Homo sapiens: one gene and its partners. The protein of the gene in region 5 interacts with the protein of the main gene of each other region in a pairwise test. Each region holds a gene or a part of one and is shown on either strand. Other genes may lie near its edges. The genes, in order: E2F2, PEAK1, NPHP1, EFS, BCAR1 and ANKS1A.

Region 1 (5,205 bases), on a different chromosome or scaffold from region 5:
CAGGCTGGGCCTGGTGGCTCGTGCCTGTCATCTCAACACTTTGGGAGGCCGAGGTGGTGGATCACTTGAGGTCAGGAGTTCAAGACCAGCCTGACTAACATGGCAAAACCCCGTCTCGACCAAAAATACAAAATTAGCCGGGCGTGGTGGTGCATGTCTATAGTCCCAGCTACTCTGGAGGCTGAGGCAGAAGAATCGCTTGAACCTGGGAGGCAGAGGTTGCAGTGAGCCGAGATCAGGCCACTGCACTCCAGCCTGGGCAACAGAGCGAGACTCCATCTCAAAAAAAAAAAAAAAGAAGAAAAAAAGAAAAGAAAATACCACTCAAAATGTGTCCTGAAGCACTCTGTGGAAGTCGGGAGGCTTCAAGTGTCACTGGCAAGACGGGGGCATGAGCTTGTGTCCTGCACTGAATCTGAGGCTTAGCCTGGGAGGTCTAGCCCCTTGGCCAGGCAAGGTGTGAAAGGGACAGTAGAGGGGGACAGAGGCAGCTGCTGAGCACACGGGGCACAAGCCTGAAGGCAGCTCCCCTGACCAGCCATATGGAGAGGCCTCTAGGGCATGAGCTTACATTCCAGACTTCAGTATTAAACTCATTCCCAATGGGTCCTGCAGGCCCCTTCTTCCTTTTCTCTGATGTAATTCTTGGGGAAAGCTCCAGAGCCCAAGGAATGGGAGTCAAACACCTCTGACTTCAGAGATGGCACATGGCTAAATGGCAGCCCAGTGGAGACCTCAGAGCAGCCCACTCACCACAAACGAGATCCTACACAGGGTCCCTGAGCATGCTGGACTTTAAGACGGGCGTCTGATAAGACCCTTGTGAGTATTTGGGTAGGAGACCAAAAGCATTTCTGCAAAGGGTACACAATTAGCCCTGCTTATAGAGTGGGGGCAGCTGTGACCCGCTGACCACTCCTGGGAGGGGGCTAACTTGGGGGCCCAGGAATTTGAGCAAATGATGAGGCACAATTGTCCCCAGCTGGGCATTAGATCACATTGGGCCCCACCCTGAAATAATCCCTCGTCTCAAACTTCAGACATCAGTCAGTCAGCTCAGGAGCCATCCAACAAAACCAACTTCATATTTTAAACCAGCTTAATGCTACAAACTTTTCTAAAAAGTGCTGTCCAGCTGAGCCTCTGAGAAAACCTAGCTCCCTGAGGGGTGGATGGCAGGCCTCTCAGACCAACCCCTGAGCCTCTCTCCAGAAGTCATAGCCTTGGTTCAGCCCAGAGCACCCACATCCCAGGGTGGGTGGGGGAGAAGAGCAGCTGAGCTGAAGGGACAATGTGGGATGATCAAGCCTCTGGGGGAACAGGCTGAAGCCAAAAGACCCCCTCAGGACCCCAGGCCTGCAGAGGTAACATGAGTTCCTCTCCCCATTAGCTGTGAAGGCCTGGTCTGCCATGAAGACCTCTCTCTGTCACCCCTTCAGTATACCTGGGAAAAAAGGAGTGAACAAGTCACCAAGCCCCAGTCACCTCTGTCCTTGGGGTCTGAGTGAGCTCTGAGGGGTGGAGTCCTTAATGAACCATCCCCTTCAATAACATGGTGAAAAAATTCCTCCCAGGGAAGCAGAGAATGATGCCAGTGCCACATGGGGGGCAGAGGGGATGCTTTTGGCAGTTTTTTGTTTTAATCTGACCCTTCTTTACAGTGGGGCTGCCTCTGCCTACCAAGTCCTTGGTGCAAAATGGCTCCTGGACCAGCGCAAGGCAGAAACTCTGAGGAAAAGTGCCCGCCACAGCCATGACAGCTGCCCCCATGCTCCTGTCTGTTTTCCACGGGAGCTTGTCTCTGCTGGACCATTTTTACATCTCAAGGGGAGAGGTAAGGACTTCCTCAGGAAAGGGGTCTCCTGAGCAGGTGGCTCCTGTTTCCACAGGAGCCTCAGTGCTACCTGCCCTAGGATGGCTCCCTGGGACCATCTCTGGGACAGAGGCGACCAGGAAGCCAAGACCGGCAGCTCAGCTGGAGATGTGAGGCCAAGAACAGGGGAAGAGGCAAAAGGGCCCACAGCTGCCGTTTACTAGAACCATGAGGCCTAAGTGCAATTAGCATTCTAGCAGACTGGACAGCCCCTCAGAGTCCCAGCCCCCACCACAGTGGGGAAACCAAGGATGTAGCCTGGGCCCCTCCCTTGGAAACCCAGACCTGCCCTGGAACATGGACAGTGATGGGCCTGTCTGCAGAGGTCTCACTAAAAACTAGAACAACCTCCCTGCTAAAACTCAGGGAGGACAAACAAACAACTCAACCTGAAATAAATACAAAGGCATTATGTGCTTCTTGGTACGTCGAGGGTCCTAATTACCCCTCAAAAGGAGGTAGCAGGGCCTTTCCCTGGACTTGGCCACCTCACCTGCAGCCTTCTTGTGAGAGGTCAGAAGTCAGAAGACTGGATGGGCCTCCCTAGGCCCAGCTTCCATTAGGAAGGTGAGGACCACCCCTTATCCACTCCTCACCCGTACCATTCATATCTCCCCACACAGCTTCTGCCGGCTGGGGCAGGAAAGGCGAGGAGACCCCATGCCCTGAGGGCAGCACCTAGTGTCCAATGTCCCTGTGCAGGCAGAGGGGCTGTCAGCCTGTCTGTGAGGAGGTAGAGTCGGGGGCAGGCTGCTGGGGGCAGGCAGGGCCACTCAATTAATCAACAGGTCCCCAAGGTCGTAGGAGTCGAAGAGATCGCTGATGCCCTCACCCGCCTCCAAGCCCCACAGGTAGTCGTCCTGGTCCAAGGATGGGGAGAAGCTGATCAGAGGGGAGCTGCACGCCAGGGTCGGGGACAGGAACTGGTCCTCAGTCTGCTGCAGGAGTGGGTGCGGCAGCTCCAGCAGGCTGTCAGTAGCCTCCAAGGGGACCAGGGATGGAGGCGGTGGGGCCTGCTGGGGGGTTGGCGCTGGTGCTGGCACTGGAGACAAACAGACAAAGGTTACGCCTGGCCCTAGCATCCAACTCCTCAGCACGCGAGGACAGACTTCCGGTTCTCTGGATGACTGCACCCTTCTTCTCTCTCCTTAGCCTGGGTGGACTGTCGTGCTCTCAAAATCCACCTTCCAGAGTCTACACCCAACCCTACAACTTTTCATGTATTTTTTATTTTTTTGAGACCGGGTCTCACTCTATCACCCAGGCTAGAGTGCAGTGTTGTGATCTTGGTTCACTGCAACCTCTGCCTCCCAGGTTCAAGCGATTCTCCCACCTGAGCCTCCCGAGTAGCTGGACTACAGGCATGCACCACCACACCCAGCTAATTTGTGTATTTTTAGTAGAGATGGGGTTTCACCATGTTGGCCAGGCTGGTCTCGAACTCCTGACCTCAAGTGATCGGCCTTCCAAAGTGTTGGGATTACAGGCCTGAGCCACTGTGCCCGGCCAAAAAGGAAAGAAATTCTGACACATGCTACAACATAGATGAACCCTGAGGACATTAAACTATGTGAAATAAGCCAATCACAAAAAAACAAATACTGTGTGATTCCACTTACATTAGATACTTAGTCAAAATCGCAGGGACAGAGAGTAGAAGGGTGGTTGTCAGGGGCTGGGCAGAGAGGGGAATGGGGAATAGGTACAGAGTTTCAGTTTTACAAGGTGAAAGGAGTTATGGAGATGAATGGTGATGGTTACACAACATTATGAATGTATTAATTACCACTGAACTGTACATTTAAAAATAGTTATGATGGTAAATTTTTGTTATGTTGCCTCTACTCTCCACCACACACAACTATACCTGACCTCATCACCCTCTCCAATTACTGGCCCATTTTTCTGCTCCTTTGCACAGTAAACTTTCTCCAGAGTAGCCTCAGCTTGTCTCCACTTCCCTATTACTATTCTCTCTTCAACTCACTCCAGTCTGGGGTCTCTCCCCACCATGTCCCTGAGCCAGTGACATCCATGCTGCTAAACCCAATGGTCATTTCTCTGGCTTCATCTTATTTGACCTTTCAGTAGCCATTCTCCAGCACTCTATGCTCATTTCTTTCTCGCCGCCTTCTTTTTTTTTTTTTGAAACAGGGTCTTGCCCAAGCTAGAGTACAGAGTGCAGTAGGGTGAACACGGCTCACTGCAGCCTCAACCTTCTGGGCTCAAGCAATCCTCTCGCCTCAGCCTCCTGAGTAGCTGGGACCACTGGTGCGTGCCACCATGCCCATCCAATTTTTAAACTTTTTTGTAGAGACAGGGTCTCACTCTGTTGCCCAGGCTGGTCTCGAACTCCCAGGCTCGAGCAATCCTCCTGCCTCAGCCTCCCAAAGTGCTGGGATTACAGACATGAGCCACCACACCCAACCTGCTCATTTCCACTTAGATGTTAAGACGGTGATTTCCCATACAGGGACATGCAATGAAGCACTGGAAATTGCCTGCCACATATATCCTGATGCTCAGAATCCCCCACATTGCAGTCACTCCTTAAGCCCCAGCCAAGTATTATTCTGAAGATACAACTGCGCTGGGATGCTAGGCTGCCTGTTGAGACTGGTGGTGCACCCATAGGCATGTGATTTCACATTTTATTTATTTATTTAATTTATTTTGAGATGGAGTCTTGCTCTGGACTTCACGTTTTAGAGCATCCATTTTCTCCCCTCTGCATGGGGCAGCATAGCACTACCTACCTCAAAGGGTTGCTCAGAGGACCGCATGGTAAGTGCATATGAAGCACTGGTTTGGCCTGGTGCGGTGGCTCATGCCTATAATACCAGCACTTTGGGAGGGCGAGGCAGGCAGATCACCTGAGGTCAGGAGTTCGAGACCAGCCTGGCCAACATGGTGAAACACCGTCTCTACTAAAAATACAGAAATTCGCTGGGTATGGTGGCAGGCATCTGTAATCCCAGTTAATAGGGAGGCTGAGGAAGGAGAATCATTGGAACCCAGGAGGTGGAGGTTGTAGTGAGGCAAGATCACGCCACTGCACTCCAGCCTGGGCAACAAGAGCGAGACTCGTGTCTCAAAATAAAAATAAATAAATAAACAAACAAATAAATAAATAAGCACTGGTTTGTCGGGTCTGCATGCTGCCCTTGCTCCTGTTAAAAATTGCTCCCATTTACCAAGGCTAATGGGGGAGGTGGTGGCACTGCCCTTGAGGCGAGGCGTGGTTCAGCCTCCTTGCACACTCAAATGGCCCTGAGGGAGTCCATGCTGTTACCCCTATTTACAGATGAGAAAACTAGGGCCCAAAGAAGTCC
Region 2 (5,205 bases), on a different chromosome or scaffold from region 5:
GAATTTGAACTGAGATAAATGATTAGATAGAAGGGAAAACCTTCCTTATAGAAGAATTCTAATTAATAAATGTAGAAAGAATGAGGAAAATTTAAAAAAGTACCTTCAGAAGCCACAGCAATAATTGCTGCAGGCAAGATCCACTAATGAATGCTAAAATTAGTGGGCAGAAACAGGATACTGGCAAAGCCTCAAAGTAGCTCTCTCAAAATATTTACCAATTACTGTGGTGGTTTTAATATATGTCCACAAATTCTTTTATACTTCTCCCTCCAGGAAGTGGAGTTTAATTTCCATCCCTTTAAGTGTGGGCTACACTTAGCAACCTGTTTCTAGTGCACGGACTATGGGAAAGGAAAAATAGTAACTTTACAGTGGACAAACCTAGCAGAAACCACCGTAACAGAGTGCTCACAAGTGATAAATTATTTGATATCATGCACCTCCTGTATGAAATAATAGGGGCACTTCACCTTTGCAGTACTCTCCCCCAAAATCCATAACCCCAATCTAATCATGAGAAAACATCAGACAAACCTAAACTGAAGAACATTCTACAAAATACTTGTGTCAAGGTTATAAAAGATAAGAAAAGACCAAGAAACTGCCACACATTGGGAGAGACAAAGAAGACAACTAAAGCAATGCAATATCAAGGTTTGGATAACAGAATGGAAAAAGAATACTAGAAAAACTGGTAAAATATTAAAGCAGTTTGAAGCTTGGTTGAAGCATCGTACCAATACTAATTTCTTAGCTTGATAAATGCACCATGGTTATGTAGGATGTTAACATTAGAGGAACCCAGGTGAAGAGTATATAGCAGCAGTTTTTCTGTTTGTTTCTTTGAGACAGGGTCTTACTCTGTTGCCCAGACTGGGGTGCAGTGGTGCAATCATGGCTCACTACAGCCTCTACCATCCAGGCTCAAGTGATCCTCTGACCTCAGCCTCCTAAGTAGCTAGGCCCACAGGCACATGCCACCACACCCGGCTAATTTATTATAGTTTTTAGAGATGAGGCCTCCCTATGTCGCCTAGGCTGGTCTTAAACTCCTGGGCTCAGACGATCTTCCCACTTCAGCCTCCCATAGTACTGGGATTACAGGAATAAGCCACCACACCCAGCCTGCATTTTCTTTCTTTTCTTTCTTTCCTTCCTTCCTTCTTTCTCTTTCCTTCCTTTCCTTCTGTCTTTCCTTCCTTCTTTCCTTCTTTTTTTTTTTTTTTTTTTTGAGACAGGGTCTTGCTCTGTCACCCAGGCTGGAGTGCAGTGGCACAATCACAGTTCACTGCAGATTGAACCTCCCAGGCTCAAGTGATCCTCCCACCTCAGCCTCCTGAGTAGGTGGGACTACAGGTGTGCACCACCATGCCTAGCTAATTTTTTGTATTTTTTTTTTTTTTTTGTAAGCGACGGGGTTTCACCATTTTGCCCAGGCTGATCTTAATGTCCTGACCTCAACCCACCTTGGCCTCCCAAAGTGCTGGGACTACAGGTATGACCCACTATGCCAGGCCCAATTACTGTATTTTCTATCTTATCCTCTGACTTGAAACGAACATGGTTTGGACAAGAAAGAATGGGCTTTGAATCCTGGTTCCATCACTTGACAGGGTGTGTCTGAATATGTTATTTAACCTTTCTAATCCTCAGTTTCTTCATCTGAAGGAGAACAAAGGAAATAATATAAGGTAAATAACAAAATTGTTGAGTTAGTGTTAGGATCAGAATTAGGTATTAAAGTGTCTAGCACATAGGAGGTACTCCACAAATAGAAGCTAGTATTATTTGCTCTTCATTTGCTCTACAGCTTCACACTGACTTCTAGCATTTCATGCTCCTCATTTTCTCCCAACTGGATCACCTCCTTACAGGCTTCCAGCTCATAATCCAGGAGGACTCCATAGTTCTTCAGTAGAGCTACAATACTCAATATCATTAATTCCCTCAACCAACTGTCCTTCAGATATCTCTACCAAACAGATATCTACAAAGCAGCAGATAACAGCCTGGGCAGAATTTAAACCCAAGCTGTTCATCTTACAAACAAGGAGAGTAACAGTAACAATACATAACTCATAAGGTTCTTGAGAGTATTAAATAGTTTCTTCAGATAGTCTGATCACTCACTGCTGGAGAAAAATCAACCACGAAAATTGGTACTGCTACAAATGTGAGGTCTACAATCTGAAATAAACAGGTCCTCAATGCTAACTAACAATCCTTCTTCAGTTTCCTAGTCATGTAACTAACAATCCTTCTTCAGTTTCCTAGTCATGTGTCTGTTTACCTCTCTCTCCCTTACCTCCACCCCATCCACTGTTAGCCATTCCCTTGGAAGCCGTTTACAAAGAGTATGTATAAACTACAGACTATCTTTTTTTCCATTCCTTTCACAGGGGTGGATTAATTTTACCTGGCTTTTTTGTTTGTGTGTGTGTTTTTTAAGAGATAGGGTCTCATTATGTTGCCCAGGCTGGCCTTCAACTTCTGGGTTCAAGCGATCCTCCTGCCCCAGCCTACTGAGTAGATGGGACTACAGGCACATGCCACAGCACTTGGCCTCACATACATTGTTTAAAAACTCCTATTCTACCACGTTCCCTTCACTCTTAGCAGATGATCAAAAATTACACAAGACATGTCATCAACTCTTCCTTCCTGCCCTGTCAGTTACAAACTTATTTACATTGCCATCCATCTCCTTCCTTTCTGCTCACTGGAAAAGTGAGACTACCTTCTACTTAAGACCAACTTCTCTGCCTACGCCCTGGATCCCATTCCTTATTACCTTCAAATCCTTGTCTCCATCCACCAGCCAGTCTCCCACGCCCACCAAACACACACATATACACTCTTCTTCAGTTTCTCCTCTCCAGTGGCTCTTTCCAGGCTCACATTAAGAATGTCCAAGATTCTCTAAATCCCAAGTATCTCCCCCTGCTTAAAGACTCCTTCAGAGTCCTTTGTTGAAAACATTGTACCCCTCTCAATTAGCTACACTTACAGTTGTCATTCACTTTTCAACACCCACCCCCATGCATTACAATGTAGCTAAGTGCTCTAGCTGAAGTTATAAAAGACATCCTAATCACCAAGTCTCAGAGACTTCATTAGGTCTTTATCTTACTTTTCCTTTTGGAGGCAGGATACAGTGTTGACCACTCCTAGCCCTTGAAATAATATTCTCCCTCAGCTTCCATGACAAATCTCTATTTCCTTTTTTCATCTTTGGTCTGTCTGGCACAGATGGTTGGCTTCTCTTCAGCTGCTTGCCCAATCTACTCAGCGGATCACAACAGAAATGTAGGAATCATCCAAAATCTTCAATCTTGCTCAATTCTATAATCTAAATAGATTTATCCTGTCCCGTTAATAATACTTCCTAAATCTCTCATAGAGCCACTCCCTCTTCTACACTCTTCATCATTTCTCACCAGGAATAGCTTCCTAACTGGTCCTTGCTTCCAGTTTTGTCCCTCTCTAATTCAATATTCACTTCACTGTCAAAATGACAGGTCTAAAATACAAATCTGATTCTACCACAGCATAATTTTTTTTCCCCACTAAATCCCCGCAACTTTTGGAATTAAGTTAAAGTTATTAACTTGGTTCACAAGACAATCATTGATTTGGCTTATTACTTCATCCACCCCTGTTCTAAAGCTGTGCTGCTGCTGTCCACTCACCTGCAGCTATTGAGTATGTGAATGTAGTTGTCCAAATTGAGATGTGCTATAAGTGTAAATTACACACCAGATTCTGAAAACAGTAGAAAATTATGCACCAGATTCTGAAGACAGTATGAAAATGGAAATGTCATATTTCAATATTACTTTTTATACTGAATGCATGTTGAAATGATATTTTGGATATACTGAGTTTATATTATTAAAATTAATTTCACTTTTTACTTTTTAAAATTTGGTTACTAGAAAATTTTAAATTGTATATGTAACATATTTGTGGCTTGTATTAAATTTTATAGGACAGCACTGGTATAAGATGTACTTTCCCTCTTTCTGGACCTAGTTAACTCTTACCTATTATTGAAGATTAGCTCAGGTAACACTCTAAGATGCATTCTAGACACCCTCCACCCATCCCCCGAAGTCTGAGTCAGCTACCCCTCCTCTGTGCTTCCATCCATAGGAATGTGTGCATGCCCCTGTCATACTATAATTATTGGTTATCACCTATCTTCTCCTCCTCAACTGTAAACTCCTTGCAAAAAGGAATCTCATATTCTATAATACTCAGGTCCTACCTACCACCATGCCTGGCACTTAAAAGGTACTCAAACATTTGTCAAACAAATGTAAACTATCTATTCCTGGCCTGAAGGTTACTAGGATTTCTACTTCACTAAGGAAAACAAACCAGCCTTGAGGGAACCTAGAAAGTACCAGGAGCTTTAGTAATGAAAGGACTAGGAAGGAGAGTGGGGTGGGGGGATGCGGGGCGGGGGGGGAGGGGGGCAAGAGGTAGGAATCACAGTAAAGAGATCAGCAAATGACAGAATAACGCTCATCACACACATCTGCCTCTTACACTGAAAACAGGGATTTGCAACACTGATATGGAGCCTTGTACTCACACTTGGCATGCCAGGGGCCACAGTTTGGTTACTAAATTACTTAAACAACCCATCCAACAAAAGGGTATGATTTGGCAGGTATCAACACAAATGGCTAGGGCCCAGCACCCGTTCCACTTAAACAGCACATCAGTACAGTTAAAAAGAACAACAAATCTCTCTCATGAAGCAAATGCTAATCTCATGATGCTTCACCACGGAACAATTTAGAAGAGTTATTATATGAAATGTGCCAAAGCATGAATTTATAGCTGATGCTTATTTGGCAAATATGGTTGGCACTGCTAGATGTTGAAAAACATGTATGCAAATAAGCAAATAAAAGTTTTTAAGCTCTCAGACTTAAATATTTACATTACCATAAATGTACAAAGATAAATGTTTATATGAGTACACGTATAATGCATTCCAGGAACATATTTTTTAATGTGATTGTCGGCAAACAGTTATGAAGTGGCATTATTTCTTCATGGGCCTTCAGGGTAGACTCTTAAAAATGAATTTTGAATGTTAATAGGCTACAAACATTATTGTGAAAGTTTCTGTATACTATCAACTGGATAAAACGAATAGTTGAGGTATCATAATAGTTCAAAGTGATCTTA
Region 3 (5,205 bases), on a different chromosome or scaffold from region 5:
TAAACCAGGAAGAAGCTGAATCTCTGAATAGACCAATAACAGGCTCTGAAATTGAGGCAATAATTAATAGCTTACCAACCAAAAAAAGTCCAGGACCAGATGGATTCACAGCCAAATTCTACCAGAGGTACAAGGAGGAGCTGGTACCATTCCTTCTGAAACTATTCCAATCAATAGAAAAAGAGGGAATCCTCCCTAACTCATTTTATGATGCCAGCATCATCCTGATACCAAAGCCTGGCAGAGACACAACAAAAAAAGAGAATTTTAGACCAGTATCCCTGATGAACCTCGATGCAAAAATCCTCAATAAAATACTGGCAAACCAAATCCAGCAGCACATCAAAAAGCCTATCCACCATGATCAAGTGGGCTTCATCCCTGGGATGCAAGGCTGGTTCAACATACGCAAGTCAATAAACGTAATCCAGCATATAAACAGAACCAACGACAAAAACCACATGATTATCTCAATAGATGCAGAAAAGGCCTTTGACAAAATTTAACAACCCTTTATGCTAAAAACTCTCAAGAAATTAGGTATTGATGGGACGTATCTCAAAATAATAACAGCTATCTAAGACAAACCCACAGCCAATATCATACTGAATGGGCAAAAACTGGAAGCATTCCCTTTGAAAACTGGCACAAGACAGGGATGCCCTCTCTCACCACTCCTATTCAACATAGTGTTGGAAGTTCTGGCCAGGGCAATCAGGCAGGAGAAGGAAATAAAGGGTATTCAATTAGGAAAAGAGGAAGTCAAATTGTCCCTGTTTGCAGATGACATGATTGTATATCTAGAAAACCCCATCGTCTCAGCCTATAATCTCCTTAAGCTGATAGGCAACTTCAGCAAAGTCTCAGGATACAAAGTCAATGTGCAAAAATCACAAGCATTCTTATATACCAATAACAGACAGAGAGCCAAATCATGACTGAACTCCCATTCACAATTGCTACAAAGAGAATAAAATACCTAGAAATCCAACTTACAAGGGATGTGAAGGTCCTCTTCAAGGAGAACTACAAACCACTGCTCAATGAAATAAAAGAGGATACAAACAAATGGAAGAACATTCCATGCTCATGGGTAGGAAGTATCAATATCGTGAAAATGACCATACTGCCCAAGGTAATTTATAGATTCAATGCCATCCCCATCAAGCTACCAATGACTTTCTTTACAGAATTGGAAAAAACTACTTTAAGTTCATATGGAACCAAAAAAGAGCCCACATTACCAAGTCAATCCTAAGCCAAAAGAACAAAGCTGGAGGCATCACGCTACCTAACTTCAAACTGTACTACAAGGCTACAGTAACCAAAACAGCATGGTACTGGTACCAAAACAGAGATATAGACCTATGGAATAGAACAGAGCCCTCAGAAATAATGCCATATATCTGCAACTATCTGATCTTTGACAAACCTGACAAAAACAAGAAATGGGGAAATGATTCCCTATTTAATAAATGGTGCTGGGAAAACCGGCTAGCCATATGTAGAAAGTTGAAACTGGATGCCTTCCTTACACCTTATACAAAAATTAATTCAAGATGGATTAAAGACTTAAATGTTGGACCTAAAACCATAAAAACCCTAGAAGAAAACCTAGGCATTACCATTCAGGACATAGGCATGGGCAAGGACGTCATGTCTAAAACACCAAAAGCAATGGCAACAAAAGCCAAAATTGACAAATGGGATCTAATTAAACTAAAGAGCTTCTGCACAGCAAAAGAAACTACCATCAGAGTGAACAGGCAACCTACAGAATGGGAGAAAATTGTTGCAATCTACTCATCTGACAAAGGGCTAATATACAGAATCTACAATGAACTCAAACAAATTTACAAGAAAAAAACAAACGACGCCATCAAAAAGTGGGCAAAGGATATGAACAGACACTTCTCAAAAGAAGACATTTATGCAGCCAAAAAACACATGAAAAAATGCTCATCATCACTGGCCATCAGGGAAATGCAAATCAAAACCACAATGAGATACCATCTCACACCAGTTAGAATGGCGATCATTAAAAAGTCAGGAAACAACAAGTGCTGGAGAGGATGTGGAGAAATAGGAAACTTTTACACTGTTGGTGGGACTGTAAACTAGTTCAACCATTGTGGAAGTCAGTGTGGCGATTCCTCAGGAATCTAGAACTAGAAATACCATTTGACCCAACTGTCCCATTACTGGGTATATACCCAAAGGATTATAAATCATGCTGCTATAAAGACCCATGCACACATATGTTTATTGTGGCACTATTCACAATAGCAAAGACTTGGAACCAACCCAAATGTCCAACAATGATAGACTGGATTAAGAAAATGTGGCACATATACACCATGGAATACTATGCAGCCATAAAAAATGATGAGTTCATGTCCTTTGAAGGGACATGGATGAAGCTGGAAACCATCATACTGAGCAAATTATCACAAGGACAGAAAACCAAACACTGCATGTTCTCATAGAATACTGTGCAGCCATAAAAAGGAACAAAATCATGTCCTTTGGAGGGACATGGTTACAGTTGGAAGTCATTATCCTCAGCAAACTAATGCAGGAACAGAAAACCAAACTCCGCATGTTCTCACTTATAAGTGGGAGCTGAATGATGAGAACACATGGACACAAGGAGGGTAACAACATACACTGGGGCCTGTAGGAAGGAGGTATTAGAGGAGGGAGAGCATCAGGAAGAATAATTAATGGATGCAGGGCTTAATACCTAGGTGATGGGATGATCTGTCCAGTAAACCAGTATGGCACACGTTTACCTATGTAACAAACCTGCACAATGCCATACATGTATCCCTGAACTTAAAGAAAAAAATAAAAAACAGTAATAAATAAAAAACGTTTTAAAGGGAACAAAAGTCCTTTGTCAAAAGGGTAGCAAAAGAGAAGGGGAAACATCAAACTGGGGCTGACCCTACTAGCAACCTCCCCAAAAGCCCCTTTCCCACCCTTCCTCTTTGCTGGCAGTCAGCTTCCCACTGGCACCTATGTTCTCAGCCTCCACTGCAGGCAGGGTGAGCAGGGGGCCCACGGCTGCCAGTGTAACATAAAACACGTATATTGGGATTGCCTCCCATTTTATCCTCCCTTACCAGGCATGAAAAGAATCTCTCCTACATCTGCTCTTAGATACTGAGGGTATGGACTTTGTAACCATGAGGAGAGACATCACCAACAAGCAAAGGATGGCAGAGTGGAATGACATCAAAGGCTGGTCTTTGAGGATATCACAAGCCATGAATCCACCCTGAGAGAACCTAGCTGCAGGCTTTTGTCAAATGAGACTGACAGTAAAGCCGCTTATTTTGGCAGGTGTCATGTTACTTGACCAAAAAAATCTCTACTGAAACTTAGACTCAGAAATTTCGCTTAAAGCCCAGAGTGGAAAACTATTTTAATATAATGTACCAAGAAAATAAATTACTTATTACAATTACCTCCTTTATAACTATGTAATTATTAAAATCCTCAAACAGTTGATATTTTAAGACTCCTGGTTCAGGATAAAAACTAAGCACACATTCATCTTCACTGGCTCCTGAAACCCCACAAAAAATGATTAAAACGTTTGAAAAGGTAACAAACTCTGAACACTGCAAAGAAGGAAAGAAGGACAACTAGCCAGCAAGAGATTTCAACAAATTTCTGCTCCATGGAAAAAGGCTGGAAGCATGTTCTCCTATAAAGGGTGGAAGACGCAACACAAGCATAAGAGGGAGATAATCTGCCAGGCCGAAAACTCTAGGACTTGAGTCAGCAGACATAAAGGACCAAAGGTTAACTAAACTAAATCATAGAGGGACACATTATGAAATTCTGCTGATGAAAAGACATGCACAGTGGCTGGGGTTTACTTTATAAATTATCTAATATTATTGTGTTATATTGTGTAAATTAAATCATATGCATACATCTAAGCTTTGAGGAGGGAAATCAATGTTAAAGCAATCTAAGGTCTTTATATTAGTCAAGGGAAGATTAATGATACTGATTACGTTTAGATTTAGTTGGGGTTCTTTCTTTTAAAAGTCTATTTACAGAAAACCTGAGCCAGTTAGCTCCCTTTTCCCCTCTCTGCTCTCCCTCCTTACCAGGGGATTCTTCCCTAAAAACAAAAAAACAAACAAAAACAATTAACAAACGACCTGAAGAGAATCATGACTGCTAAAGAAGTTTCCCATACACCAGGGTTAGAGCCGGCCCTATTCTGGCACTGGGGGATCCTCAGACTAAAAGCTACTTCCGAGCCTCTGATAAGCCCTATCAACATACAAAATTTCATTCTTATTCAGGGGATGGTACTAGCAGGAAGGACCCCTCTCTATCTAACAGTAGAAAAGCCCATGAGAGCTCTCTGGAATAATCAACCTAGTCCCTCATTGTTCAATAAAAATAGATAAGCCAGACCTAATAAAGAAAACCGGCAACGTGAAGATAAAATTTAAGAATAACCAAATATAAATTAATTAATTAACTAATTAAAAGGAATCTGAGCCCAGAGAAAGCAAAGACAATTCAGAGAACAGAAGAGAACTTAAGGAGAAAAAAAAAGCCTCCTAGTCATGGAAGTAGTAAGAAGGCAATCAATATGAAAACAGGAACATGATGCTATGAAAAAAGAACAATTCGAGAACAAGAGAAAACACTTGTAAATTAACAACATGACTGATGATGGCCAGGCACGGTGGCTCACGTAATCCCAGCACTTTGGGAGGCCATGATGGGTGGATCACCTGAAGTCGGGAGTTTGAGAGCAGCCTGGCCAACATGGTGAAACTCCGTCTCTACTAAAAATACAAAAAATTAGCCGAGTGTGATGGCGTGAGCCTGTAATCCCAGCTACTCAGAAGGCTAAGGCAGGAGAATCGCTTGAACCCAGGAGGCAGAGGTTGCAGTGAGCCAAGATCATGACAGAGTGAGACTCCATCTTAAAAAAAAAAAAACCAATATGACTGCTGAAATAAAACAATATGGCTGTTGAAATAGGTAATAAAGAAAAGTGTTAAAGTCAAGAGAATTGCTAGCATGGTAGCTCGTGGCGGGGGAGGGGGGCATCCCTTGAGCCTGGGAGGCAGAAGGTGCAGTGAGCCATGATTGTGCCACTTCATTACAGCCTGAACGACAGAGTGAGACCCCCCACATCCCCCCAAAAAAACATCTCCCATACAAACA
Region 4 (4,838 bases), on a different chromosome or scaffold from region 5:
CTTGATTTCGGACAAGGCTTTGAACTTGGTTTCCTTAACTCTAAAACAGGGAGTCTAGGACTGCACTGTCCAATATAAACATAATGTGAACCACATGTGAAATTTTAGATGTGTTAGTAGCCACATTAAAAGTGGTTAAAAAAAAAACAAAACCCTAATATATTTTATCTAACTCCAAATATAAAAATGTTATAATTTCAACATATAATCAACATGAAAATTATTGAGATTTTTCCCATACTGAGTCTGTAAAATCCAGGCTGCATTTTATATTTGCAGCATATTTCAATTTGAACTAGGCCTATCTTGAGTGCTCAATAGCCATATGTAGCTAGTGGCTACTGTACTAGATAGTGCAGTTCTAGTATGTACCTCATGAGGCTGCAGTGAAGGTCAATTGAGATAATATACAGAAAGGGCTTAGCAAAGTGCATTTCACACTGTGAGCACCAGATGAGTGTTAACTGTGGCTGTGATTAATACTAACACGTGCAGTGTGCCTAGCACAGGGTCTGGCACTTGGTAAATACCTGATAAATGGTAGCTATTGTGTTGCGACCATTCTACGCAGGGTTGAGGAAACCACCTCACTTTCTGAGGCCTGGAGAGATTAACTGACGGCTTCAAAGCCCCTGGCTTCTCAGTAGTGAAGCTGGGATTAGAAGCCAGGTCTCTTAGGAGCCCAGGAATTCACAGTTGGAAGGAGGCTCAGAAGTCCCCAGGCCCAGCTCTGACCCCACAACTCAGAAACTTTCTGCTCTCCTGGCTGCTTGATTTTCTGACTCCTCTCCAACACATTCTTTCCCCTCTTTCTGAATTCCTAACATCCTCTTCCAAGGTCCAGTTCCTTCCTGTAGATTTCTAACTTGCCTCCGCTCTGTCCCTGGTTCCTGTGAACTCTCACTCCATCCTAACCTATTTCCTTCCACGGTTGATGGCTCAGTTCTTCTCCCAAGTCCCCATTCCTCCCTCCCCTGTCCCCTTCTCTAGCACCATTCCCGCCAGGGTCACCTGCGGCGCCGGCATCCCCCTCTCGGGCAGTTCAGGATCCCCTGTGCAGGCCTGATCCGGGGGCCTAGATCCCTGAGCTTTGTCCATGCCCTGCAGGAGGGGATCAGGTCTCAGTGTCGGGGTGGGGGAGCAGGACGGGGTGGCCTCTGTGGCCTTTCTGCCCCTTCCCCGGACCCCCTTCCTTCCGAAGGACACTCCTGTTATCAGAGGTTGTAGTCCCTTGACTCCAGAGAGCTCTGGTGGCCCCAGGCTGGGTCTAGGAGGAACAGTGTGGCACTGGTACAAGTGTTGTGGCCAAGTACTGGGGTCCCAGGCTGCAGGGTAGAGGGAAGGGGGACAGAAGGGAGGCAGGGAGGCTCTGCCTCTGTGCCCTAGGTCTCCACACCCCTCCCCTTGGTCCCTCTGGGGTCCCTCCTGGTGGGGCTGCCAAGGGGCGCTCACCTTCAGGTGGACATAGTCATACTCCTCGGCCATCGGAATGCCCTCGTACTCATTGTGGTGTCCTGCTGGGTCATCCTCCATCTCCCTGCCCTCTGGATCCCCCTCGACCTTGGGGCCTCCATAACCAGGCAGGCGGGGTGGGGGTGGGGGCAGAGGCCGGTCCTGGATGCTGCCCTTCCGGCCTGGGGCAGGAGAGGGCACTGGGGAGGGGCTGGGGGCCTCAGGGACAGGCAGGGCAGGCAGAGGGCGGCGGGACAGGCTCTCAGCTGAGGGGAGCCGGGGCCTGTGTGGGGGTGGGGGGCTTCTGGCCAGAAGCTGGGCCAGGGTGTCCTGGTCATGGGAGGCCAAGGCTCCAGGGGGCTCTGGAGAAGGGGGAGCCTCTGGCCCCAGCAGAGGCACATCGTAGATCCCCTCATCAGTGCCCCCGCCCTCCCCGTCTGCCAGCAGTTCCTCGGGTGCTTCATACAAATTGAGTAAGGCTGACGCTCGTTTCAGGTTGGAGGGGGCAGCATAGATGGGGGGCCCCGGCTCCCGGCCTCCTTCCCACTCCAGATCTGGTTCCAGCTCTGCAGGTGGCTTTGGGGTCAGAGGCACATCATAGGGAGCATCATCCTCTCCAGGGGGCTGCGGGGCAACCCGGGTCAGAGGGTGGGAAAAGGAGGCAGGGCAGTCATAGGGGCCACTGGAGGGCACCCGGAGGGCGGTGGGGGGCACATCGTAGACCTGCGGAAAGGAGTGGTCAGTCATCTGTCAGCTCAGCGATGAACCCTCCCTTGGGGCCATTTGTCTCCCACCCAACATACACAGGGACCTCTAGCCCTCACCTCCAAGGCATCTCTGGGAGCAGCCAGCTGGGTCCCACTAGCTCTGGGGATTTTGTAGATGAGGTCAGGAGAGGGTGGGCAAGGTCCAGCTGGAGGTCCTGAGGTTGGACAGGGCCGAGCTGGGGGCGGCACCACATACACCTGAGGGATCAAATAGATGGGGGGTCAGGAGGAACGGAGGGGCCGGTGATCAGATAATGTCTGAGTGCGAGGAGCTTAGAGACCTTCTAACTCTCCCTGTATCGAGAGGGCCACAGCTCAGAAAGGTTGGTAGACAGGTTTCGTCCAGCGCAGAGCAGTGAAGAGCTGTGGCCTCAGGGCTCTTCCTGCCCACCTGCTGCAGGCCCTGGGTGGGGCTAGTTGGGGAGGAATGGGGCTCTTCTGGCTTGGGGTTGGGGAGGCTCCCACTCTCACCTCCTGGTCCTCATTGCTGTGATCTGGGGCTGGATATGGTGAGCCAGGCTGGGCTGGGGACGCAGGAGAGAGGCTGGGCTTGGGTGCTGGGCCAGCAGGCAAGAGCTTCACCCTGTTGGCGGGCACAATGCCCTGCTGGCCGTGTAGGGAGCAGAGGCACCAGCCGTCCAGTCCACCAGCGCCCTCTCTCTGCAGGACCCGTAGGACATCCCCTCGGCGGAAGGACAGCTCCTGGGGGGACTCAGCGGTGTTGTCATACAGTGCCCGGGCCAGCTGGGTCTGGTTGGGGAGGTGGGAGTGGGGAGAAGGGTCTTCAGACCCCTTTCAGGTCACGTCACCCCTGCTTAGAACCCTTCGGAGCTCCGCATTTCCCTCAAGCTAAAAAACCTGAACTCTGGATGCAGCTTTCTGCCTGGGCCCTAGCTTCTCTCCAGCTTCACCGCTTGCATTCTCCCTCTTCCTTTCAGTTCCTTCAACTAGACCAGCTCTCCTCAGAGAGGCCGATTCTTTACTCTTCTCCCCGCCCCATTCTCTGTTTGTCTCCACCTATTGTTTCCATCCTCGTACTTTATACTATTTGTCTATTTGCTTCTTTTGTATCGATTTCTTCCCTTATACTGTAAACCCTATGAACATAGGAACGGCTATATTTCTAGTCCTTGCAATAAGGCCTGACCTGGAATTGGTCATTACACATGTTGAATGAATGTCTTCCAAAACATGTGAAGCCCTGCTACAGTCTCTCATAGACCTTCTCTCTGTTCCCAAGTCATTATCCCTCACTAGCAAAAGGTTAGATTAAGCAGCCACAGAGACCTCTCATTCTGAGAGACTGGGAGAGGCCTAGTCCAGACAGTGTGCCTAGGCATAATAAGAAAGAAAACAGAAACAAAGCAATTGTTTTGCTCTCAGTCTGAGCAAATAAGTTTCTACCAGAAGAGGCTGAGGTTACCATGGAGAAAAGTGTGTATTCTTGTGTGTGTGTCACCACTGCCTGGGATCCTTCCAGCAGGCATCATCATTTAGCAATGGGCCCTTCCATTGCAGGACAGAGTGTGTCTTTGTGTGTGTGTGTGAAGGGGGTTGGCAGGCCAACCAAAAGGAAACATGTATCATTCTGTTTCCAGTCCTGTCTGGTGGGGGCTTATAAGCTTTTTCCATCAAGGGCCACAGGCTCAGGTAATAACTCACAGGTACCAAGTGCAAACAACGTTTCCAGACACTGTGCAAATCTTTGCATTAATCAACTCATCTCATTTAATTCTCACAACAACCTTACGAGGGAGGGACTGTCATTACCCCATTTTGGAAAGAAAACTGGAAGAGGGAGGTTAGTACTTTGTCTGATGCCATATCGCTGGCACAGCTTGTGGAGCATAATCTGAACCCTAAGCTGCTTGATCCCAGAGCCTGCGCTCTCAATCACTTGTGCTACTGCTTCTCCACAATTACAAATGTAGGAATCTACTTAAAAGAAAGAGTAGTAACAGTGGCTGAGAGGGTCCCTAACTCAAAAGCAAGTCAAGCGCATAGGAAAGCCTTCTTATACCCTATTTCCCTTTGCTATAACCCTTCGCAGTGCTCTTGCTCCATGATGTCATTTGGTAGAATCAAGCTAAAACCACTCAAAACATACAATTACATTCAGCTTCAGTTTTGATTGCTAAATGATGATGCTTGCTGGTAGGATCCCAGGCAGTGGTGACTTACATGTAGTGTTGGAGAGCAGCTAGTTAGGCATTACTAGCCAGGTAGCCAAACGGACTGACTAATTCAGCAAAAAAATCTCAAAGTTAAAGATCTCAGGCAGGCTGCCACCAGACCCTGGGGAGAAGGATGCCCTGCTAGAGTCAGCAGGAGTGCATATTCCTCTTAGCTGATGTTTCCCTCTGGTGGTGAGGTTATCCGGCCTCTCATGGCTGGGTGATTTTAACAACAAATTGACCCCTCTTCTTGCCTGATTCCCAACTCATCAAACCATTTTCTGATTATATTTTGGTTTCTAAAGGATATTGTCCCACACAAAGAAACGTGCTAACCAGATGACACAAATTCCCGGTTAGTGCTGCACTTTTCTTTTTAGTTGTAAATTATAAATCAGTCTTTTGGATCTAGCCAGGGGATTAAAAGCACAGTTCTAGAGGCAGA
Region 5 (5,205 bases):
GGAAGGGACGGGGCTCCCCAAGGATGCCAGTTCTCACCCCCTCTGCACCATCTGACCTTCCTCTAGCAGAACGCAGTGCCAGGTACGGCAAGAACTCTGGGTTTTATTCAGAGCTGCCTCGTCCTGGGCCAGGACACCAACGTCTCTACAGCCTGCTGACCCAGAAGGCTCCACAGAGGAGCATGGGTATGAGCTGATGACACCGGTGGGGTGAGGGGCTGAGGCCCTGGCTCTGGAGGGCACTACCCACAGGCAAGGAACCCCCCGTTACTGGGGCGCCTAGCCCCACAGGACAAGAGGCCACGTCGGAGGCCTGGGAGTCTGCTGCCCACACCACCTAGCTGTAGCCTCCTCAGAAGGGTTGGCCCAGCAGGGGACTGCATCCGGCCCAGGACCAGATAGAGCCTAGCACCCCCTGCCCCACAGCACAGCATGGGGAGACTCTGGAGGACAGGGCCAGAGGGGCAGGTTGGGTGTGTGCTGGGGGGCGCAGCAGCTGGGACCAAGGCCCCCTCCCTGCCGCGCCTGCCCCGGGGGAGCTGCCTGCAGCAGGTAAGATCCCCAGCGACCTGAAAGGATGAGGCCTAGTGGGGGAAGTGGGTCCAGGGCCAGCCCTCCCCTCCCCAGGTGCTCTTACCATGACCCAGAGCCCAGGGAAGCCAAGGCCCGCACAGTGGGTGAAGAGGCAGGCAGCACAATGGCCTGCCCAGGGCCACAGGACCCCTCACCAGCACCAGCCTGAAGCGGGTAGGGGCCATGCCAGGCAGCCTCCTTCCCTGAAGGTCTCCCTGCCTTGGGGAGGTCAAGGCCTCCCTGGTGGGATTCTCCAGCCCCCGGGCACACTGCGCCCACACGCCTCCACCACCAGGCTCCCTGTTCAGCTCTCTCCACTGAAAGACCTTTTGTTCCTTCATCAAAGGGGATGTCTGGGACAGGGTTGACTCAGGGCCTCCCCGCACATCCCCCAGGGCAGCAGCGCCAAAGCAGCCCCTCCCCCGGGCCCAGTGCCCCTGAACCCCTAGAGGCCCTCCCAATGCAGGCAGGCAGCCAGCCCTGCTTGCTGAGGGTGCTGTGAGGGGGGCGCTGAGCATGGGGGTGGCAGAGGCGCCAGCACCCCCCAGCAGCCGCAGGCCTGGCAGAGCCCCCCGCAGCGCAGCAGAACTGGGCCCACTAGGTCTCCAGCACGCCTGGTAGCAGAGTCCCGGCTGGGGGCCTCCGTGGGGTGTCCCCGCCCCCTTCCAGTGCGTCTGGGAGTGGATTTGGCGGCTGCCTCTCCAGACTCATCTCCCTCCACGCGCCCCAGACTTGAGTCTCCTCCAGAACTATTTTTAGATGCAGGGACCTGCCAACAGCGGGGCAGGCGGGGCGGAGGGACGTGGCAGGTTGGCTGGGCCTCGAGGCACGGCCTGAGGCTTCTCCAGGCCTCCCAGCCTCCCAAAGGCAGGTGGGGACCCAGCCTCAAGGCTCAGCCAGGACCCAGCACCAGCAGGAGGGATGAGCATCCTCCAAAAGCACCCTGCCGGTGGCCATCCCAACCTCACGCGGTGAGGCCCAGGGGTGCAGCTGGACCCAGGCCTGCCTCCCCAGGCAAATGGCCGCCTGCCACTCTTGGAGCTGAGTCGGGTGGCAGTAGGCAGCCACAGTGACCAAATGTTTCTGTTAGAAAAACAGAGCAACGCAGCCACCAGGGGGAAAAGCTCTTTAGGGGAATGACTCAGCCCCACTGCTAATCACAGGCCACCCTGCTGCACACCTGAGACCCCACTAGCAGGCCGTGGAGGTCCCCCGGGGGTTAGGGGAACACAGCCAGAGCCCAGGAGGAGAGAACAGAGGCACAGTCACTGACATAAGACCCACACGGTCTCTGACACACATGCCTCATACAATGCAGAGAAAACACAGCACAGGCCCACTGCCAGGTGCACGCACAGAACCCAGGCAGCCCCAGGGCCAGGGTGCCGCCCCTCTCCTCCCCTACTATCAGGCATCAAGCGGGGGGACAAGCGAACTCAGGAATACATCCCAGCCTCCCGGTAAGGGCCCCAGAGGCAGGTGTCAGGTCGGAGGAAGGGGACAAAGTGGGCCCCCGCCCTGGAGCTCAGTGGCTGGTCTCCCCCTTCTGCAAAATGGGTGTCGCCCCTGACCTGGGTTGGCTCCCGGCTCTGGCACCCCCAGGTCCCAATCCAGGAGCCTCGTTTCCTCCTTGGGAAATGGAGCACCACAGGAGCGCTGCGACCACGGCCACCAGGACACACCCCAGCATGAGGGGCTCACCCGACCTGGGTCATGGTGGCCTGAGGGGCCACCACCATAGCCCGCTCCCCTCCCTCCCCAGCTCCAGGCACCCCAGCCTGAGGTCCCAGCACAGGGGAGCCTGGGGCAAGATGAAGCTTCTAGGGCGAGGAGGGTGAAACACAGGCCCGACAGGACCACGTGCACGCCTGACCTCACGCCATGGCTGTCTCCTTAGACACTGACCAGGGGCACTACCTGAGCGACCTCCCACAGACGCCTTCCCCCGGGGGTCCCATCTGACCATGAAAGAGCCTCTGCCCTCAGATTCCTACAGCCCACACCCGGCCCAAAGAGTCTCGGTGCCAGTGTGGCCCTCACCTCTCCCTCAGCCATACGGGCCACCAGGCTCCCACCTTAGCAACCACTGGACCCTGCTCCAGGGCCCAGGGTTCTGACCCTCCTGGCCACCATCCTTGTCACTCACCCTCTTGGCTTCCTGAGAGCCAGTGTCCCTCCCGCCCACGTGAAGTCCTGGCAAGGGCTCCTTCTCAGCCCAGCCAACCACTACCCTGGAACTGGGAGACTCAGTTTCCCAGGCATTTGAGGGGCAGGCCTGAGGCTTGGAGGGGAGCACCTGGAGGTTCAGACACAGATGTCCCGCAGCCAGGTGTTACCGCCGTGCCACCGTAATGAAGGCATGAGCAATCGGAAACTGCCCAGGGCCCGCCCCAGCAGAGGGGGCAACCCAGCAAAGTCCAAGGCGGCTCAGGGACAAGCTTTAAGAATTCAACAAAATGCTTTTGATATCTAATGTTGGATTTACAACTTTGAAATGCAAAACTGCATGTATAAATCTGTGAAACACAGGGCAGATACTAGACAAAATATGCCAGAATTTCCCAGTGATTACCGCGATTGGAAAATTTCATCTCCAGACTTTCCCATACATTATGCATTTTCTACAGCAAACAAGCATTGCTTTTGTGATCATAAAATACAAGCAGACACAATCAAGACTGGGGGAGGTTTCCTGGGGGAGAGCAGCCAGGCCCAGGACACAGGGCTCTCCTTCCTGGGCCATCAGCCAGGTCAGGGCCCTTGGGGCACAGGTCTGGGCAGCTCTACCAGTGGGCATGGGCAGAGAAGGACCCAGCTGGCTGAGCCCCTGATGCAATTGAGAGCAGGCCCCCTGCCGGAGACGGAGACAGAACAGCTGCCAAAACACAGCCTCGAGGCCGGGCTCTGTCTGGGGGTCTCGCTGCTGCTCCCCAGCCCACAGGGCTTCCAGCCGCACCAGGACAAGCTTCACTGCAAAGGCGGGAGAGGAGGGGTGGGGATGTGCCTGACCTTGGGGCATGTGCAGTGTGGACTGTGTGTGCGTGTGCATACGCACATACATTTGTACGTTTGTGGGATACTGGTGGGTGCACACGCTTTGTATGTGTGGACGTACACGTGTCTGTGTGTGGGGTGAGTATGCACGTGTGTTTACACATATGGGGTTTGGGTGTGTGCGTGTTCATGCATATGATGTGCGCATGTGTGGGCGTATACGTGTGTCCATTTATGGGGTATGGGATGCAGATATGTGCATGTATTCACGCACATTCATGTAGCGCATGTGTGTGTTCGTGCATATGGTGTGTGCATGGGTGTTCGTATCTGTGGGGTACAGGCATCATGCACGTGTGTTCATCTGTGTGGGGTGTGGGTATACCTGGACTGTGGCCTGAGGCTCCCCTACAGGACACTGCTCCCTGCCGCCTCCCCAGGGGATAACAGGACCCTGCTCCTCTTGCTAAAGCCAGTTTGGGAGCACCCCCACCCAGGCACCCCACGCCAGCCAGGCTCGCCTCTGACCAGATGGCTGAAGGAGCAGGTAGAGCAGGAAGTGGGAGCCAGTGACCCAGGTTCCCCTGGTGGCCAGGCTTGGTGGCCCATGTCCATGGAGTCCCCCACCCGCCAACGACCTCCGGCCATGCCTCCTGGGTACCAGGCCACCCATGGGCGGGGGTGGGGGTAACTCCCAGCTGACTCGCTGCCCAGCTGGCACCAATGAGGTCTCCACCTCAGCCCTGGGCTGAGTGTCTAGTGCTGACTCCTTCCTACAGGCAGGTGAGCTTGGGAGGCAGGGGCCCTGTGGACTTGGGAAGCGGGCTCAGGGTCTGGAGGCCAGAGGTCTTGTCCCCAGGCCCAGCATCCCATCAGCAAGAGCCCAGGAGGCTCTCAGGGCAGTCCTCCTCTAGCAATCTCAGGGGCAGCGTCCTCCCAGGAGTCACATCCAGATCACCATACGCACCCGCTGGCCCCTAGCATGTTCCATAAGTGGAGAGGGGTTGGCCTGTGGAGGCAGGGGCGGCCAGAAGATGTGCCGGAACCCCATCTAGAGGCTGACACGTAAACCCAGATGGCACAGGGGAGCCTGAGCATGAAGTGGCTGGCCTCTCCCTTGCGGGGGCCCAGCAACTGCCGACCCCATGTGCCAAGCCCCGCCTGCCCACTGGAACGCCTCAACAGGCTGCTCCCTGTGGTTGGTGACACCACCACTCGGGTCGGCTTGGCTGAGGCCAGCGGAGCATCTCCCCTCTGGGTCCATTCACATCCATCTTCCCCGGACAAATGAACACCCCCCAAACACTCACTTCCCACTTTGACCCCAGACCAAACACACAGCCACTCCTGGAATGCCGGTGATTGAGGGTGGCTGGACCCTTCTGTGCCCACAAACCAGGGCCTGGGCTATACCTGTGTGGCTGCACAACTGTGCCAGGACAGCCTTACCTTTGCCGGGGGCTTCGTGCCCTCCCAGCTGCGTGTGTCCATGGACGGGGGGACCTGGTAGATGTCATGCCCCATCCCGGCAGAAGGTGGCACCTGGTAAATATCCTGGGCAGGGCCTCCAGGCCCTGGGGGCACCTGGTACAGGTCTGTGGCCGGGCTGGGAAACGGGTGATGGGGTGTCTGCTTCGA
Region 6 (5,205 bases), on a different chromosome or scaffold from region 5:
ACACAGGCAGAGGGAGAGGCCGCCAGAGGCTAAGAGCGCTCACGGTCACTTCGGGGAGACTGACACACAAGACAGCAGGAGGCGTAAAGACCTTGACTCCAGGACTAACAGATGGCAGCGGTAGGTAGGAAGGACGGTGGGTGGTGCAGGTGTGACAGTAACAACAGCGACTATCGGGGGGCAGCGGCACCTGGGGTGCAGAGCAAAGCAGACACAGACACAGGGATGGCGCAGTTACTGGGGGCTGCCTGCAGGCCGCTCTCTGCAGCCCCTTGACGGCCTTGCCCTTGGGGGAGCCCAGCGAGGGAGGGAAACAGGAGCATGAGAGGCCCGCCCAGGCCAGAGGAGCTGCTGCCTTTCCAGGGGCGAGACCTGGCAGGGTTGGGGGACAATTAAGAGGGTCATTTCCCTGGAGGGCCAGCTTTCTGGAAGTGCCAGAAGACCCTCCTCACGCTGACCACCCTGAGCCCTTGAATCCCTGGGGCCAGGGAGAGGGGGATCTTGGCCAGTGGGGCCCACGTACTGCGGATTTCCTCACGCCGACCCGAGGCTTAGGCACCGGTTTGGAAGATTTTGTTTCAATCATCTCAGCTGCAGAGGCGCCCGTCGCCCTGGACTTCTGGGCCTGCAGGGCCAACTGATAGGCCACTTCGAAGGCCTGCCCCAGCGTCAGGATGATCTCGTAGGTCAGGTTCTGGGAGGAAGCAGATCACCACTTAAGCACCTGGTTCAGGAGCCGCTTCACACTGGATATGCCCTTCCTCGCAGGGACCATGTGTCCCCCTCTAAGTCTACCCGGGAGCGCTCCTACCTCCTTCCACTCTTCCCTCCTTTCCCTCCTTTACTCTTCCTAGGTCTCTGTTGTTCTTCCCGCTCTACACAGGATGTGGCCGGGAGCTGGGCTGCGGGGAGGGCAGGTGCACACTGCTGTAAGCCTACGGCAGGTCTTTTCCAAGGCAGGGTGCCGTGCCTGCAGCAGTACTTGGGTATTTCTTACCATTTAATGTAAGTGGTGCTAGTGCTTTTATTTTTAATGTGTCACCGACAAAGTCTGTGAGTGCTGTGCCCCTAACTCCATTTCCCCATAAACCCTGTGGTTTTCCTTGTGTGATTTTACACAGCACAGTGATTGTTAGGAGCGTATGTGTGGCGTTACAGCAGAACTGAGTGTATGTGGGAAAAGTCAGCAACAGGTAAATGCCACTGACTGTGCTGTGTGGACCACCTCATCCATCTCACAGTGGCCCCTGAGGTGGGCCACATTATATCCCCTCCAGACAGATGAGGAAGCAGGCAGATGCGATGTTTCCAAGCTCACACAGCCAGCAAGCAGCAAAGCCTGGTTCCTCCTAACCTTCACTGGCCCAGAGCAAACAGAGGACTGGGGTGGATGAGGTCCCAGGAGTGTGGGGATGCCCAGAGCTGCCTGTATTCCAGGAGCCACAGAGATTCTGGAAGCAGCTGCTATCCCTGAGGGCGGCAGAGACCTGGACCCCTCTGACTTCCTCCCGGGGTGAGGAAGCAGCCTGGGGCCACTCTCATGCTTTGTTGCAGGTTAGAGGGAACCCCCGCCTGTGGGCTGTCAGTTCTGGTCTGCTCCCTGTGGGCAGCTGTGTGAGAATGAACTCTCCTCGGCCCAGTGGCATCCAGAGCCGAGCCTCAGCAGGAATTTGAGGGAAGAAAATCTGCCAAAGAGGGCACCACTGCCCCTAAGAGGGAAGTAGAGGGCATTTCTGGGAGGCGGCCCAGCCAGAGGTTGGAGACCTAGGGCAGGGAGCCGGGGGAAACAAAGGCCTTGCCTGACCTAAGAAAACACTCGCCAAAAAGCTGGAAAGTCAGGGGCGGTGGCTCACGCCTATTATCCAGTTACGTGGGAGGCTGAGGTGGGTAACTTGCCTGAACCCAGGAGTGCAAGGCAAGCCTGGGCAACATAGTGAGACTCCATCTCTTAAAAAAAAAAAAAAAAAGCTGGAACCTCCTGTCCCTAGTGCCCTGGGCCAGTCCCTGTTCCCTCTGCGCGTCAGTCTCATCACTGTGAAAGGGGACCGGCCTGAGTGCTGCTGGGCTCCATTCATGAACCAAACATTTGCCAGGCACTGGCCAGGGGCCAGGACAGCGCCGCATCTGTGCCCTGCAATGGGGCTGGACGCCTCAGGGCTGCAACCCAAGCCTGCCCCACCCGGCCCCAGGACCCCACCCACCACATCCACGGTGCTGAACACATGGCAATAGTGGTGGCTGGTCTGCAGGTCCTTGGTGATGTAGGCAAAGGTACAGAGGTCCTCCGGGTCCTGGGCCGCACAGGAAATGTTCCGGATCTCGTGCTCTGCAATGACGTTCTGCTGGGGAAAGCCGTGTTCTGGAATTCTCAGGCTCAGGCATGCCTCTGGCACCCCCTGCCCCAGCCTGTTACCATTGTCACTGTTCTCTGTCCCAGCCTAGAGCATCAAGCAAACCCCCCTTCATCTTCTCATTTTGTTTATTGGTGGGGGTGGGGGTCCCCGATTTTGGTTTGGGGTCTCCACCCCTTACCACAACAACTAAGGCAGTAAAATGTTCACACCCAACCACAAGCTCTCCCCAGCCCCTCCCACCTTCCAGGGTGGGGGCAAAGTGGGAAGGGTGTCAGGAAGGTGGGATCCCACACGGTGGCACACAGAGAAAGTCCTTTGCTCACGGAGGGAATCACACCTGTGAGCAGGTGTGCGGCCAGTGGAGCCCAGGTGGCGAGGCTAACAGCAGTGATCACTAGGGCGGGGACGGGGCTGACAGCAGGCACCCAGGCCAGCAGATGAGAGACACGCCTCTTAGCAAAGTGGGAAGTAATAAGAGGACTGGGGACCCTCTAGGGAGATAAGAGATGAGACAGGGCAGCCGGGTTGCTTGCCCTGGAGCCCTGTGGGTCTGACGGGGATGTGGGTCCCACTCCCACCAAGAGTCCCTGTAAGCAGCACACCTTGTTGGAGGCATCGATGAACTTGACACCTTTGTATGTGATGGACAGGATGATGGTGGGGATCTTCTTCATGTGCTCCGTAGATTTCTACAGGAAACAAGGGGTGGCCCTGTCAGTGCCCCTTCTCAGGGCTAAGCCTCCTGGGCTTCCACAGGTCCCAGCTTCCTTCCCATCCTTACATAGTGCAGCAGGGCCCAGGCAACTGCAGCTACTGCCCCCATTGCTGCCTTCTGCTGGCCAGTCCCACAGCGCCCTCCAGCCCACACAGGCACCCTACCCGCATCTTGGCACAGGCGTCTTGCGTGGATTCTGTCCCTCGCAGATCTTTGATCAGCATGGAGCCCAGATACTGTGGGGGCGAGCAGTGGCCAGGCTTAGGAAATCCTGCGTTTCCATGCAGGGGTGACCCAACCAATTTGGGACTGTCCCACAATCAAGTAGTTACCCCTCTCAATAACAACACCCCCTCTCCTGCCCCAGCTGGAGAGACCCTCCATTCAACTCCCTAGCTAAAGGATCCAGAGGCCTCCACCCCTTCGCCTTAGCTGTCAAGAGTGGCTGAGAGTGGAGAACAGCTCAAAAGCCCTGGGCCTGGCTTTGTGGAGTCCCTGCTGGGACTTGGCCGCAGGTGCCTGGCCGAGAAGGAGCAGGGAGGCCGGCCCTGCTGGGAGGGTGGGAGCAACTCACATTGGCTTCATAACCACAGGACTCGAAGATGAGTTTCTCTGGCTGGTGTTGCCAACTCTGCACTGGGGCGTAGGGGGCTGCCAGGCTCGGGGGCCGCAGGGTCAGCTTGGCCTCACGGTGCTCCTCCTGCGAAACACACGCAATTGGACACCTGCTCCTTGCTCCAGAGGAGCACATGGGCTTGCTGCCTGGCTCCAGCACACTCAAGGGTGAAGATGCCAGTGACCTTAGCAAGTTCAAGGGTCGAGTGGAGATGGCAGGGGGCAGACCAGCAATTCAAACACACTGCGGGAGAGGGGAGGTGCTAGCCACAGCAGAGGCACAGCAGGGACCCAAACCGCCTGAGAGCAGGGCTTGGGAAGGACAGTCTCTGTGGTGTCCGAGATGAGTCTCAAAGGAGATGGGAAATGACCAGAGAGGAGATGGCAGAGTCTGTGTGGGGGGCACAGGCTGCCAGGCTGTTCTGCACAAAGACCAAAGGAGAGAACAGCGCCCACGAGACCCTGGGACGCCTTGGGACCCAGCCCAGGGCCTGGGAGGGATCTTCACAGCGGGGAAGCCAGTGAAGCACCCGCCCGTGCCTAGGAATGCATTCCAAATGGATCCTTCTGGCAGCAGCTAGGGGGTGGGGGAGGCCACTGCGGTCCAGGTGAGAGATCATGGGTCCCTGTCCAGGGCACTGGTGGAAGGAATGGAGAGGAAGGAAAAGATTCAGGAAACACGGAGGCCCTCCCTTCCCAGCAGTGCGCAGAGCCTCTCAACAGCAACCGGAATTGCTGGACAATGTGTTTAAAAATCCTTTAAAACTCATGGCTGTGCTTGTAGAAAGGGAAAGGAAGTCCCCAGAGCCAGAAGTGAGAAGTGAGAGTCAGAGAAACAAGCAGGGGTGAAGCTGAAGTTCACCCGGAGGGGCCTGAGGGACACCTGCTAATCCTGTGTCTGACAGGCCAAGAAGAGGACAAAGGACAAAGCCAAGGTCCGTACAAGGAGGGAGGCAGGACAGGCAGGTCCTGAGTAAATCCAGGACCCCTGGAAATGATGCCCTGAGAAGGTGAGCCAGGAGTGTGAGACGGGCCCACCTCCGCCAGGGCTGGAGCGGGCACCGGGAGCGGAGGAGGCGTCTCCAGCGGTGCCCCCCACGGGGCTGCAGGCAGAGAACAGGAAGAACAGAATCTGGTCTGGCTGTGGTTTTGCTGAGCAGGAGGAAGAGAATGCTGCCGAGGTGAAGCTGCAGGGAAAGCAGTTCTGGGGAACAACGTGGGTAAGCAGAGAAGGAAGGGGCCAAGAAGGAGCTCAGAGGCCAGGAGAGCACAGAGGGCTCTGGGGCCAGCAGGGGAGGCAGTGCAGGACGCAAGAGGCCACAGAGAAAGAGCGGACAGGGGATCTGAACCCCTGAGGGAGGGAAGTACAGGACACAGGAGTGGCCCCAGCAGCTGACAGCTAAAGTGAGTTGTGCGGCCCGAGCTCGGCACCATGGGTGCTGGGTGGGCCTTACGCAAGGCGGCTGGGTGTGGGCGAGCAGAGCAGGCTAGTGCCTCCTGACTCTGGTGCCAGCCCAACTG

What was found.
Region 1: the proteins of BCAR1 (region 5) and E2F2 interact in a two-hybrid assay, tested with the Homo sapiens proteins (one large-scale study listed by BioGRID and IntAct).
Region 2: the proteins of BCAR1 (region 5) and PEAK1 interact in binary tests that used the Homo sapiens proteins (3 or more experiments, as listed by UniProt).
Region 3: the proteins of BCAR1 (region 5) and NPHP1 interact in a two-hybrid assay, tested with the Homo sapiens proteins (2 studies listed by BioGRID).
Region 4: the proteins of BCAR1 (region 5) and EFS interact in a two-hybrid assay, tested with the Homo sapiens proteins (one large-scale study listed by BioGRID and IntAct).
Region 6: the proteins of BCAR1 (region 5) and ANKS1A interact in a two-hybrid assay, tested with the Homo sapiens proteins (one large-scale study listed by BioGRID).

The regions. Positions count from the first base shown.
Region 1 is NC_000001.11:23,507,234-23,512,438, forward strand, and holds part of E2F2 (transcription factor E2F2), read right to left. Parts: intron 2,916-5,205; coding exon 2,647-2,915; 3' UTR 1-2,646. UniProt on the Homo sapiens protein: Transcription activator that binds DNA cooperatively with DP proteins through the E2 recognition site, 5'-TTTC[CG]CGC-3' found in the promoter region of a number of genes whose products are involved in cell cycle regulation or in DNA replication.
Region 2 is NC_000015.10:77,412,994-77,418,198, forward strand, and holds part of PEAK1 (inactive tyrosine-protein kinase PEAK1), read right to left. Parts: intron 1-5,205. UniProt on the Homo sapiens protein: Probable catalytically inactive kinase. Scaffolding protein that regulates the cytoskeleton to control cell spreading and migration by modulating focal adhesion dynamics. Acts as a scaffold for mediating EGFR signaling.
Region 3 is NC_000002.12:110,194,449-110,199,653, forward strand, and holds part of NPHP1 (nephrocystin-1), read right to left. Parts: intron 1-5,205. UniProt on the Homo sapiens protein: Together with BCAR1 it may play a role in the control of epithelial cell polarity. Involved in the organization of apical junctions in kidney cells together with NPHP4 and RPGRIP1L/NPHP8. Does not seem to be strictly required for ciliogenesis.
Region 4 is NC_000014.9:23,357,865-23,362,702, forward strand, and holds part of EFS (embryonal Fyn-associated substrate), read right to left. Parts: intron 2,970-4,838; coding exon 2,691-2,969; intron 2,418-2,690; coding exon 2,277-2,417; intron 2,176-2,276; coding exon 1,453-2,175; intron 1,102-1,452; coding exon 1,012-1,101; intron 1-1,011. UniProt on the Homo sapiens protein: Docking protein which plays a central coordinating role for tyrosine-kinase-based signaling related to cell adhesion. May serve as an activator of SRC and a downstream effector. Interacts with the SH3 domain of FYN and with CRK, SRC, and YES.
Region 5 is NC_000016.10:75,237,454-75,242,658, forward strand, and holds part of BCAR1 (breast cancer anti-estrogen resistance protein 1), read right to left. Parts: coding exon 5,017-5,205; intron 1,208-5,016; exon of another isoform or gene 641-1,207; coding exon of another isoform or gene 638-640; intron 1-637. UniProt on the Homo sapiens protein: Docking protein which plays a central coordinating role for tyrosine kinase-based signaling related to cell adhesion. Implicated in induction of cell migration and cell branching. Involved in the BCAR3-mediated inhibition of TGFB signaling.
Region 6 is NC_000006.12:35,081,255-35,086,459, reverse strand, and holds part of ANKS1A (ankyrin repeat and SAM domain-containing protein 1A), read right to left. Parts: intron 3,770-5,205; coding exon 3,644-3,769; intron 3,306-3,643; coding exon 3,234-3,305; intron 3,044-3,233; coding exon 2,957-3,043; intron 2,343-2,956; coding exon of another isoform or gene 2,340-2,342; coding exon 2,202-2,339; intron 695-2,201; coding exon 524-694; intron 1-523. UniProt on the Homo sapiens protein: Regulator of different signaling pathways. Regulates EPHA8 receptor tyrosine kinase signaling to control cell migration and neurite retraction.